Regions from separate parts of the Homo sapiens genome. Here region 1 is linked to region 2. Evidence: fine-mapped expression QTL. A gene starts in region 2. The other region holds a variant in brackets. All regions are shown on one strand. Distances are between the middles of the regions. Region 1 has its middle 3.9 kb from the start of FAH. Region 2 holds the start of ZFAND6 (zinc finger AN1-type containing 6).

What was found.
Region 1: its variant is fine-mapped to the expression of ZFAND6 in whole blood (INTERVAL, PIP 0.97).

What each region holds. Positions count from the first base shown.
Region 1 is chr15:80,146,360-80,151,744 of GRCh38, forward strand. No RefSeq gene overlaps it. Among named protein-coding and RNA genes, the nearest start is that of FAH, 3.9 kb to the right of the region's middle. The variant C/T (reference allele first, on the strand shown) is at 3,187.
Region 2 is chr15:80,057,435-80,062,819 of GRCh38, forward strand. It overlaps ZFAND6 (zinc finger AN1-type containing 6), which reads left to right and starts at 2,242. Exons shown (of 7, transcript NM_019006.4): 1 at 2,242-2,375. RefSeq lists silencers at 1,920-2,248, 1,945-2,814.

The sequences.
Region 1 (5,385 bases), 89 kb after region 2:
ATGAAATTAGACCCTTATCTCACACCATATATAAAAATCAACTCAAAATGGATTAAAAACGTAAACTTAAGAAATGAAACTGTAAAACTAGAAGAAAATGGGAAAAGCTCCATGTCATTGGTCTGGGCAATGATTTTTTGGATATGAACCCAAAAGCACAGGCAACAAAAGCAAATACAGACAGATGCGATTATATCAGGCTAAAAAGCTTCTGTATAGCCAAGGAAACAATCGACAAGAAAAAACCTAGGAAGTGGGAGAAAACATTTGCAAACCACACATCTGATATGGAATTAGAATCTAAAATAAATAATGAAGTCAAACAACTCAATAGCAAGAAAACAAGTAACCTAATTCTTAAAAAATGAGTAATGGATATGAATAGACATTTCCCAAAAGACATAAAAATGGCCAACAGGTATGTGAAAAAATGCTCAACATCATTATCAGAAAAATGCAAAATAAAACCACGATGAGATATCATCTCACACCTGTTAGAATGGCTATTATCAAAAAAACAAAAGACAGCAAGTATTGCAGAGGCTGTGGAAAACAGGGAACCCTTGTACTTTGTTGGTGGGAATGTAAATTAGTACCGCCATTATGGACAACATAGGGGTTCCTCAAAAAATTAAAACTAGCGCCACCATATAATTCAGCAATCCCTCTGCTAAGTATATATCCAAAGGATATGAAATCAGTATGTCATAGAGATACCTGCACCTCCATGTTCATTGTAGCATTATTCACAATAGCCAAGATATGAAATCAAACTGAGTGTCCATCAGCAGATGAATGGATAAACAAAAGGTTTGTATACACAATGGAATACTATTCAGCCATAAAAAGAAATCCTGTCATTTATGACAACATGGATGAAGCTGGAAGACATTATATTAAATGAAATAAGCCAGATGCAGAACAACAAATACTGCATGATCTCACTTACATGTGGAATCCCAGAAAAAGTTGAAGTCAGAAGTAGAATAGAATGATGGTTACCAGGGGGTAAGGGCTGGGAGGTTGGGGAGATATTGGTTAAAGCCCACAAAATTTCAGATAGGAGGAATAAGTTCAAGAGATCTATTGGAAAATATGCTGACTATAATTAATAACCGTATTTTTTTTTTTTTTAGTCCAACTGAGTCTTGCTCTGTTGCCCAGGCTGGAGTGCGGTGGCGCAATCTCAGCTCACTGCAACCTCCACCTCCCGGGTTCAAGTGATTCTCCTGCCTCAGCCTCCCGAGTAGCTGGGACTACAGGCACGTGCCACCACACCCAGCTAATCTTTGTATTTTTAGTAGAGAGGGGGTTTCACCGTGTTAGCAAGGATGGTCTCGATCTCCTGACTTTGTGATCCACCCGCCTTGGCCTCCCAAAGTGCTGGGATTACAGGCGTGAGCCACCACGCCTGGCCTTATTATATTCTTGAAAATTGCCAAGAGAGTAGATTTCAAATGTTCTCAGGACAAAAAAAATGAAAAGTGAGGTAATGTTTATGTTAAGTAGCTCAACTTAGCCATTGTGCAATGTGTACCTATTTCAGAATGACATGTTTTACATGATAAATATGTATAATTTTTATTTGTCAGCTAAAAAAGTAAAAAAGAATTCTCCAGGTGTTGTCCCAGACAGCCGCTGAGATGTGGAACACATCTGACAACAACAATCAGAATCCTGGTGAGGAGGGAGGGCAGGACAGAATGCTCTCACACAGGATGTTCTTAGACAGAGTCAATCTACTTCTCATGTTGCATGTTATACTTTTATGTACATTAGTGATGGGGAGGTAAGGAAGAGGAAAACAGGATTGCTGACATTTATTGAGAACTTTCTGTGTGTCCCACAATATGCTGAGAGTTTTTGCAGGGGTTTTCTTATTTGATCTTCTAAACAACCTTACAAGGCAGGTATCGTTTTTATTATTTCATTTTTCCAATGCATGAAATTAAGATTTGGTGAGGTACAGTAACCTAAACCCAAACTCAATATGAACGTTCTAGAAAGAGATTTCAAATCTTTCTTATTTGAAACCTTAACATATATATTCTTACAGCTGGGTGCAGGGGCTCACGCCTGTAATCCCAGCAACTTGGGAGGCTGAGGTGGGCAGATCACGAGGTCAGGAGTTCAAGACGAGCCTGACCAACATGGTGAAACCCCATCTCTACCAAAAATACAAAAATTAGCCAGGTGTGGTGGTGTGAGCCTGTAATCCCAGCTAGTTGGGAGGCTGAGGCAGGAGAATCACTTGAACCTGGGAGGTGGAGGTTGCCGTGAACCGAGATCGTGCTACTGCACTCCAGCCTGGGCAACAGAGCGAGACTTTGTCTCAAAACAAAACAAAACAAAACAAAACAAAACATAACAAAAAACAAACCAACAACAACAACAACAGACATATATATTCTGTTACCACATACTGTTTCCTTTTGTTCAACATCTAGGGAAAGGGCCACAAGGAAAAATCATGCCTAACCAACTTTAGTGTGTGTGTGTGTGTGTGTGTGTGTGTGTGTGTGTGTGTGACAGAGAGAGAGAGAGAGAGAGAGAAAGAGAGAGCGAAAGAGAGACAGGGAAATTTTAGTGTGGATTTATTGTTGACAAACTAAACAATGTTTGCAGAGAGAGGCACTGAGAATGATCTATTCAGCTGTGCCAAACAGGTTGAATACAGAGGTTGTAACTTATGTGTCAACATTCCTCTGTATTTCTGGGAGCAGAGTGGGATCCACAGCTATAGCTCAAAAAGGCACCGAACATTTGGATGGGAAAAAAGGGATAATTCAGATGGGAAAACTATTGAATATGTATTTAGTTATAAGAAAACAAAACAAAATTAGAAGTATTTTGTTGAAATAACAGTGAGGGAGAGTCTAAAAAGTGGCTCCTGCTTTGATAATGGTAACAGAGAACTCATTATATGGTACACATTATTAAGTCAGATGGCAATGACATGTTCTTTATTTAAGGTGCTGCTTGTTATTTGTGAGTCTTGCAAATCCAGCTTAAATCCAAAATGGATTTGAGGTAGTATTCCATCAGAACATAGACACAATAGTACCTGAAACAGACTAAAGACAGAATTAAAGAGGGCAGGAAGAAGAAAATTTATATTGCAGAAAACCTAGCCCTGGTTGAGCTGGTTCACCTAGGACTTCATCCAATCCCCTTCTCCCCACCCTA[C/T]AACATGCACTTGCACTTGAATTACTTACGTTCAGTTCCAAGATCCTCTAAATTTTGAACTCCTTTGAGAGGACAGAATGTCATGTATATTTGCACATGACATATATTCTTGATACTAAAATGTACTGGACACATGCCAAACCCATGATGCCCACTACAAAATGTGTACCATAAACATCACTGAGCTCAGACCTGAAAAAGAGAGGACACTTACTTTGCTAAAGTGCTTGGCCTTTGACATAGTTTCCTCTTTTTCTTGACGACCATGCAGCAGTGCTGAATGTTGCAAAAAAGGCCACCCCATCCTGCTTCCCAGTGCAGGCAGCGTCCACACCTTGCTTATCTGAATGGCAACTGCCAGCTTCTCAGAGCCGTTGCAAGACATTAGTGTCCTGGATCTGGAAAGTTCTCTCTCAGCTCTCTTGTAAAGGAGTGAGGGACATGCTTTGTGTGAATGAGGGCTGCAGTGCAGTGTGTTGCTTTTTAGCATCAGAGGGAGGCATTAAATATGGTGCTACAGAGACCCAAACCAGCCTTCATTGCTGGAGATGCTGAAACTCACTGCGAGTCCTGAAAGTGTTCATACTCTTTGAGTCAGGAATCTTCCTTAGATAATTGTCAAGGAAAAGGAAAACATTCTGTGCATGCACCTCTTCATTGAACCGTTATTATTACCATCTAAAACATTGCGACTTCCTTAGCTAATGACAATGATCATAATAAAGCCTATTGGGCCTCAAGGAAAAATATTCAAGAGAATAAGGTAGGGAAAGACTGAAAAATTGCATCTATGTAAAGTTTATAAGGATGGAAAAGCCATGTGCATACAAATGGAATGAAAAAAAAACATGAAAATGAGAAGACTACATTGGTGGGATTATGGGCAATCTCTTTGTTTTAAAATTCTTTTTAAATAATTGTTGTGATATACGTGGCCAACACATTCTCTTCCAAAAAATGAGAAAGAAAAAATATAGTATACTTGCAAGTTATTTCAAATGCTGTTTTCCAAATAGAGAACAGCTTTGGCGTTTTCAGACACTGTGTATAATTAGTGGGTTGGTTAAGTCTATTTTAAAACTATGAAATCTTACTCCCTCTTTAGCCATCTCATCCCCACACCCTTTCCTACACATACATCTGCCCCATGTCCTTTCCCTAAAATACTTTGGTTTTCTTTCTCCAAGGGTTTTATCATTTAGGCTTTTGTTAACTTGTATGTATTCAGTAGAAGCTCCTGGCCTAGCATCCCCCACACAACACATGCTCCATAAAAACAGGAATTAAAGATGTGAGTTGCTGGTGTATCCCCATGGCCTGGCATAGGGCATGGGCTTATTAGTTATTGCTTCATTTCCTTTTGGTCAACAGTTTTATATTAATGACATGTATTTATGGAGAACCTATTCTGTGCCAGGTGTTTTGCTGGGTATTGACAGAGTTGCACATGGAATAAGAAAGCTCGTGGTTTTAATGGGAAGGGGCAGGGCAACTACAGAACGTGGAAATAATTCATTGCGTTGCAGCTGAGGACTAGCTTGAATTAGGCAGGTATCAAGTGCTCCCTGGAATGCCTCTTTATAAGGCCACCAAGTTGGGATACTCTCCTCTTCTTTTCCTCTTTCAGGAACCTACCAGAACAAATCAGACCACCTTCATTCCCTCCCCAGGGCTGACTTAAAAGAACTGAAGCCAGTCCTTGGCAGAGCCACTCAGGGCAGGAGATGAGAGCCAAGAGGCTGTGCCCAGATTACACTCCTTACTGGGTGATGATCACTGGTCACGCCTGGTGGACAGGCACCAGAGTGATCTCAGGGGCTAGGAAGGGGGGCTCAACAGCGGGCCCTGCTTGCCGTACTCGCTCCTCTCAAGCCGTCTGGTTTCAAGCCCACTTAGCTCACATTATCCTGCCATCTTCCAGCCTCTTCTCCCTAAGCTGAAATGCGGAGCAGCCTCCCTAACTCAGCAGTCACTGTGTCACATTCCTCAAGGATCTTCAGGGAACCCTTGCCCAGACTATCGTCTACTTTTCTAGATTTCAGCCGGCATCCTGGCTGTTTAAAAGTGTACCTGAATCATTCACACCAACAATAACACAACGACACACTCTCCGGTGTGTTCCAAGTGTCCTGGCTGTGGCATGGTCTCAAAAAACTGCAGCTGACTGCACATGAGTGATTAGATAACACCTTGAACCCA
Region 2 (5,385 bases):
GTCTTGCTATGTTGCCCAGGCTGGAGTGCAATGGCCATGATCCCATTACTAATCAGCACAGGAGTTTTGACCTGCTCTGTTTTGGACCTGGGCAGAGTCCTCTTTCTTAGGCAACTTGATGGTGCCCCCCACCCTCTGTGGACACCAGTGGGTACAGTGCACTACTGCCCAGAACTCCTGGACTCGAGCAATTCTCCCAGCTCACCCTCCTGAGTAGCTGGGACCACCGGCATGTGTCACCGCGCCCAGCAAATTGTATTCTTTAAAAATGGGTAAGTTGTAATGATATGTGTGTTAAATCTCAATAAAGCTTGAGTTTCTAGCTTTAATAACTGGAAACATGGTGTCACCATTAGCCAAAATTGGGACTACAGGAGGAAGAATGTGTTTGGGGGAAAATAAGCCTTGGACATATTGAATGGCTGTGATAAGCACACAGTGAATGTCCTGCTCTGGAACACAGGAAAGAAGATGGGGCTGGAAATAATAATGCATACACAATCATTTATTGAGCATCTGTTACATACCAGGTGCTGTGAATATGTTGTTTATGTACACTGACCGGTAGGTTGCGTATGTATACTGTTTATTGTTTCTGCTCCCTCTCTTCCCCTGTGTAAGTCAATGAGAGAAGGGCCTTCATCTTTCTTAATGCTGTCTCCAGCACCTACAGCACAGGCTGGCAGAGAGTCGGCATATAGCATTTACTGGGTGAATAGAAATGCAGTATCTTTTAACCCTCATAACAATCCTTTGTGGTAGGTTTTCGTTCCCATTTCACACAATTTTCTTAAGAGCACAAAGCTAGTAAGTGACAGTGGTCTGTCTGCATTCCACGTCACAATGCAATACTATAATCTCTCAATCTCCCAGAACGAATCTGGAACAAAGGAAAGCAGTAAAGGTCATGTAAACCCAATTTCTGCAAATTCATAATAACTGCATATGAAAATCCAACTGGGTTAGGTGCTGGAGTTAATACAACGATAAACTGGACAAGAATCGGAAGAAAAATACATTTAAGACAAAATCCGTAAGACTTGACGCATAACCTTGCTAGTTCAAGAAGCTCTTTCACACATATTATGTTATTTAACCCCCACAAATAGCCTAACAAGTAGGTTTTATTACCATTCCAATCAGGCTTTTGTCCTCCACTTAAACTGTACTCCCCAAGGTGACTTCTGTGTTGCTAAATGCTCAACAGGTACTCACTTCAGGCACAACATTTAAGGGAGCACCAAAAAACTAAGTGATCAAGATGAATAACATTTTTATTTTTTAAAATTAAAATTAATGCAAAAAAAAAATCCATGAATAACAAAATACCAACATTTAAAATAAAGAGGATTCTCAGGACTGGGCTCGCCTACCTGGATGCCCTAACGGAACTCCTCATTCACAATAGGATTGAATGACCTCGAACTAAAGTGTCACGTACTTCCTGCTCGTGATGCTCGTGAGCCCGAACGAAGGCTGAAAAACTTCAGGGGGAGCCATTCTGCCTATCACCCCTAGTTCCAGCGCAGCAGCCCAGCGTGCACCACGCAGGTGGGAACTGACCCCGTGCTTTTGGAACAGGCTGGAACTGGGGGTGCTTGTGCCTGTGCATGTATGTATTGCACACGTGTGCATGCACGCTTCTCGTCTTGCTTCTATTTCCAAGTCCCAGTTCAGGACAGGGCAGAGAACTGCTTTCCAGTATGCGCCCTGAGCTCGGACTTTGCGCTTGCAGACTGAGGCGCCGGCCTGCATGGGAAGACAGAAGCTCAGAATTCCTTCCTGCACAAGTGGCAGGTGGAGTGCAACTCTTTTTGGTGCCTCAGTCCAAGACAGGGACACGCCATTCCCTGCGAGGTGGCAAAGGTACCTGAACCTACATAACCAAGCCCTTAAAGTCTCCGCGGCACCTCTTAATCGCCTTCCCGTAGCTATTGGAGGTAGAGAAACCGCGGCGGGAAGCGCCCCAGAGAGGGCAGTGGAGCAAGGGACACTGGAGGTGCAGAAGGCGGAGGAGCATCTCCTTTCGCTCCGCCCCGCCTCTTTTCCTGCCTCCGGCCAATTGCCGTGCGCTCCGAGCCTTGACCCCGCCTCTCCCCGCCTCCTCCGGCCTGCGGCCCCGCCCGCGCCGGTAATAATTAGCGGGCGGGCGGGGCCCGCGCGTCAGCCGCGGGAGCCGGCCAATCCAGTGGCTCTCCTCCGCGGTCGCGTCATAGGCCGAACAACCAAACAGAAAAGTTTAATAAACAGCGGACGGAGGGGCCGGCGGTGGCGGAGCCGGAGCAAGCAGGGGTTCGGCGGCATTACCTGTACCCATTCACCGGCGGCTACCGGCGGCGGCGCGCAGCGTGTCAGGCGGAGAGACCCGCCGCCAGGTGAGGAGCGCGGCCCGCGGGGCCCGGCTTGCCCGGCGCTGCCCCTCCCCCGCCTGCTCCCTTCCCCCACCCGGCTGCAGCTAGGCGAGGCCCGCCCCCGGCCCCTCCCGGCGCCCGAGAGCCGGAAGCGGAGGGCGGCCGGCCGGCGCAGCAGGTGGTGGGCCCGCGGGGGCCGCGGGCGAGAGGGCGAGGACTCCCGGCTCCGGGGGTGGGGGCCGGAGATCGGCGGGTTCACCTCAGACGGCGCGCGGGCGCCCGCGGCCGGGGGCCGCTTCCTGTCAGGGTGGTCGCGCTGGGGTCGGGAGCCTCAGTTCTTCAGGGCCGCGGAGGCCGCGACGCGCGCCGCCCCGAGCGGGTTGCGAGCGGTTGGCTGGCGGGGGTCGGAAGGGCCCCGGGCACACTGGGGCGCGTCAGTTCCCCGCCTCCTCCGAGTCTCAGGTCCTCTTCGGGATGTTTTTCCACCTGCGGCGTTTTTCAGAAACCAGCCGGAGGCAGCCCGGTGTCTCCAACTCCTGACTGGCACCGGGAAGGGAATTGGTCTCTTTTTTTCCTGCTTGGGTTTAGCTTGCTTAGGATTCTAAATTTTTTGTCTGCTTTTTTGAAATAGTTATATTTAAGTTTTAGCTACCTAAAAAAGTATGAAAGAATATTGTGTTTGAAATCTTTTTAACTTGGTTTTTAAGTCACGTGCTAACTATCCTACACAGTTGGGACGCTATGATTTACCTTCACATCTCGGAAGTTGTAACCAGTTGTGAGGAAGTTAGGACCTTGGGGTTACCTAAAGATAATTTATATTAAGTTGTTGGGCCATAAAAACTGGGCAGAATTGGCCACGCGCGGTGACTCAACGCCTGTAATCCCAGCACTTTGGGAGGCCGACGCGGACTAATCACGAGGTCAGGAGATCGAGACCATCCTGGCCAACATGGTGAAACCCTGTCTTTACTAAAAATACAAAAATTAGCTGGGTGTGGTGGCGGGCGCCGGTAGTCCCAGCTACTGGGAGGCTGAGGCAGGAGCATCGCTTGAACCCGGGAGGCGGAGGTTGCAGTGAACCAAGATCGCGCTACTGCACTCCAGCCTGGCGACAGAGGGAGACTCCGTCTCAAAAAAAAGCCGGGCAGAATTAATGATTTTGAAGCTCCGAGAAACAGGATTAAATTCCTCTTTCAAACCGAAATCGGAATTTGATTTTTTAAAAGTGTAAAATACCATAAACTTTTAAGGTTAGTTGTTCGGTAACCATGTCACCAATTTTAAGGCACTTTCTGAGTTGTGTATAGTTTCTCCAGAGCCCTAGGGGAAATGTTTTGCAAAATATGCACGTTTAGCTTTCCAAAACAAGTTGTCTTTTTTATTTTTACTTTTTTACGTTTTAAAATGTGTTTAAAGGGAGACATCACAAATGTGCAGGAGAAAATACAGGGGTCGGTGGATTTATTATCTTGTAGTGATAACTTTTTGGGTGTATGCATATGTCAGAACTTACACGTTTTACACTTCAAATATGTGCAGTTTATTGTCAACTATATGTCAGTAACGTTTTTAAGAAGTAACCAAAATATATTTAATACTACCAAAAAAAAACACGGTAAAGTATAAGCAGATAAAAACATCATAAATCCTTGATGACTCCCCCCAAACCCAAAACTGGAACATTACTAAAACTTGCATTTGTCTATGAGTTTCTTATCTGTGCAGTGGATTTTGTGTATGTCACTTCCTTGACTTTTTGAAAAATAGTTTTATCATATATGTTTGTATGCCGAAACTGTGTGGCATTTAATTTGTTTTTCTTTTGAGCTTTATAAAAATAGTATGTGGCTGTAGTTTATTTCATTGCTTTATGATATGTTAATCTGCCATAACTTATGGGCACTTCGACCGTGTTTTTATTGTTTTTTATTTTGTTTTGTTATAAGCAGTCTTGCTCTGTGAACATTTCTTGTTTCCGGCTCTTGGTACACAAGTACAAGAATTTCTCTAGAGTAAATACTTAATGTGGATTGCATTAGACGGTATTAGGTAATCAGGACTAGAATAGATTGAATTACTTAGAAATAAGATGAATGAAAAACATTAGGATTCTCTATTATGTTTAAATAGAAGATTCATAGCCGTAGTGATTGAACTAGTTCAACCTAGTTGAACATTTGCATGAAAACCCAAAATTCCTGTTAACCTATGTGTAATGACTCTCTTACTTTGAAGTCACATTGTAAAAAGTCTGGCACTGTTTGGTATCTCCTTTTCAATGCAAAAATAGTATAGTAGAAAAAACGCTGGATTGTATGTAAAATAAATTATCCTTTCTGCTGTTCCTCTCCTCCCCTCTAATCTCTAGCAAATTACTTAAAAATTTCTCTTGTGCCTTAGCATACTCATGTAAAAGAAACTTGTCCTAAGCTTATCCTTCCACTTTTGCACAGACTTTAATTAAGGAAAACACCTGTCAAATGTCACACCCTTTAAGGGAAAGCATTAGGACCAAGGTGTTATTCTGTGGAATTAAATTTTGTATCCTTTGGAACATTTTTGGAAAAGTTGTGTGGTGGTTCAGGATTTGTTAACTCCATATTTAAATATGTTTTAGATTAGAGAATGCCCACAAGGTGTGTTTCCCGAGGATCTGTTTCATTATGCTAACAGGAACACAGCGACAAATTAGGGAATAGTATCTCCTTACTATCCTGAAGATAGGTGTGTTTTTATGTGTTTCATGTTTCATTCATGTATGTAAGTGTGAATTTACATGTAATTTTGAATAACCTTTTTGTTTGAAGGCATGGGAGTAGAGATGGTTTCATTTTTTCTATATGTAGCTTGCAGACAAATATCAGGATGCTTTGTTTTGGTAGGGCTGTATTCTGCTTTTAAAAACCTTATTTTTTATTTAATTATAAGGACAATGTGTATATGGGGTTTTCCCCCTCAAACTTGAGAAAGAATAGAAAGTTACTAAGAAAAGCCACCTATAACACCATGATAGATAACTATTATTAACATT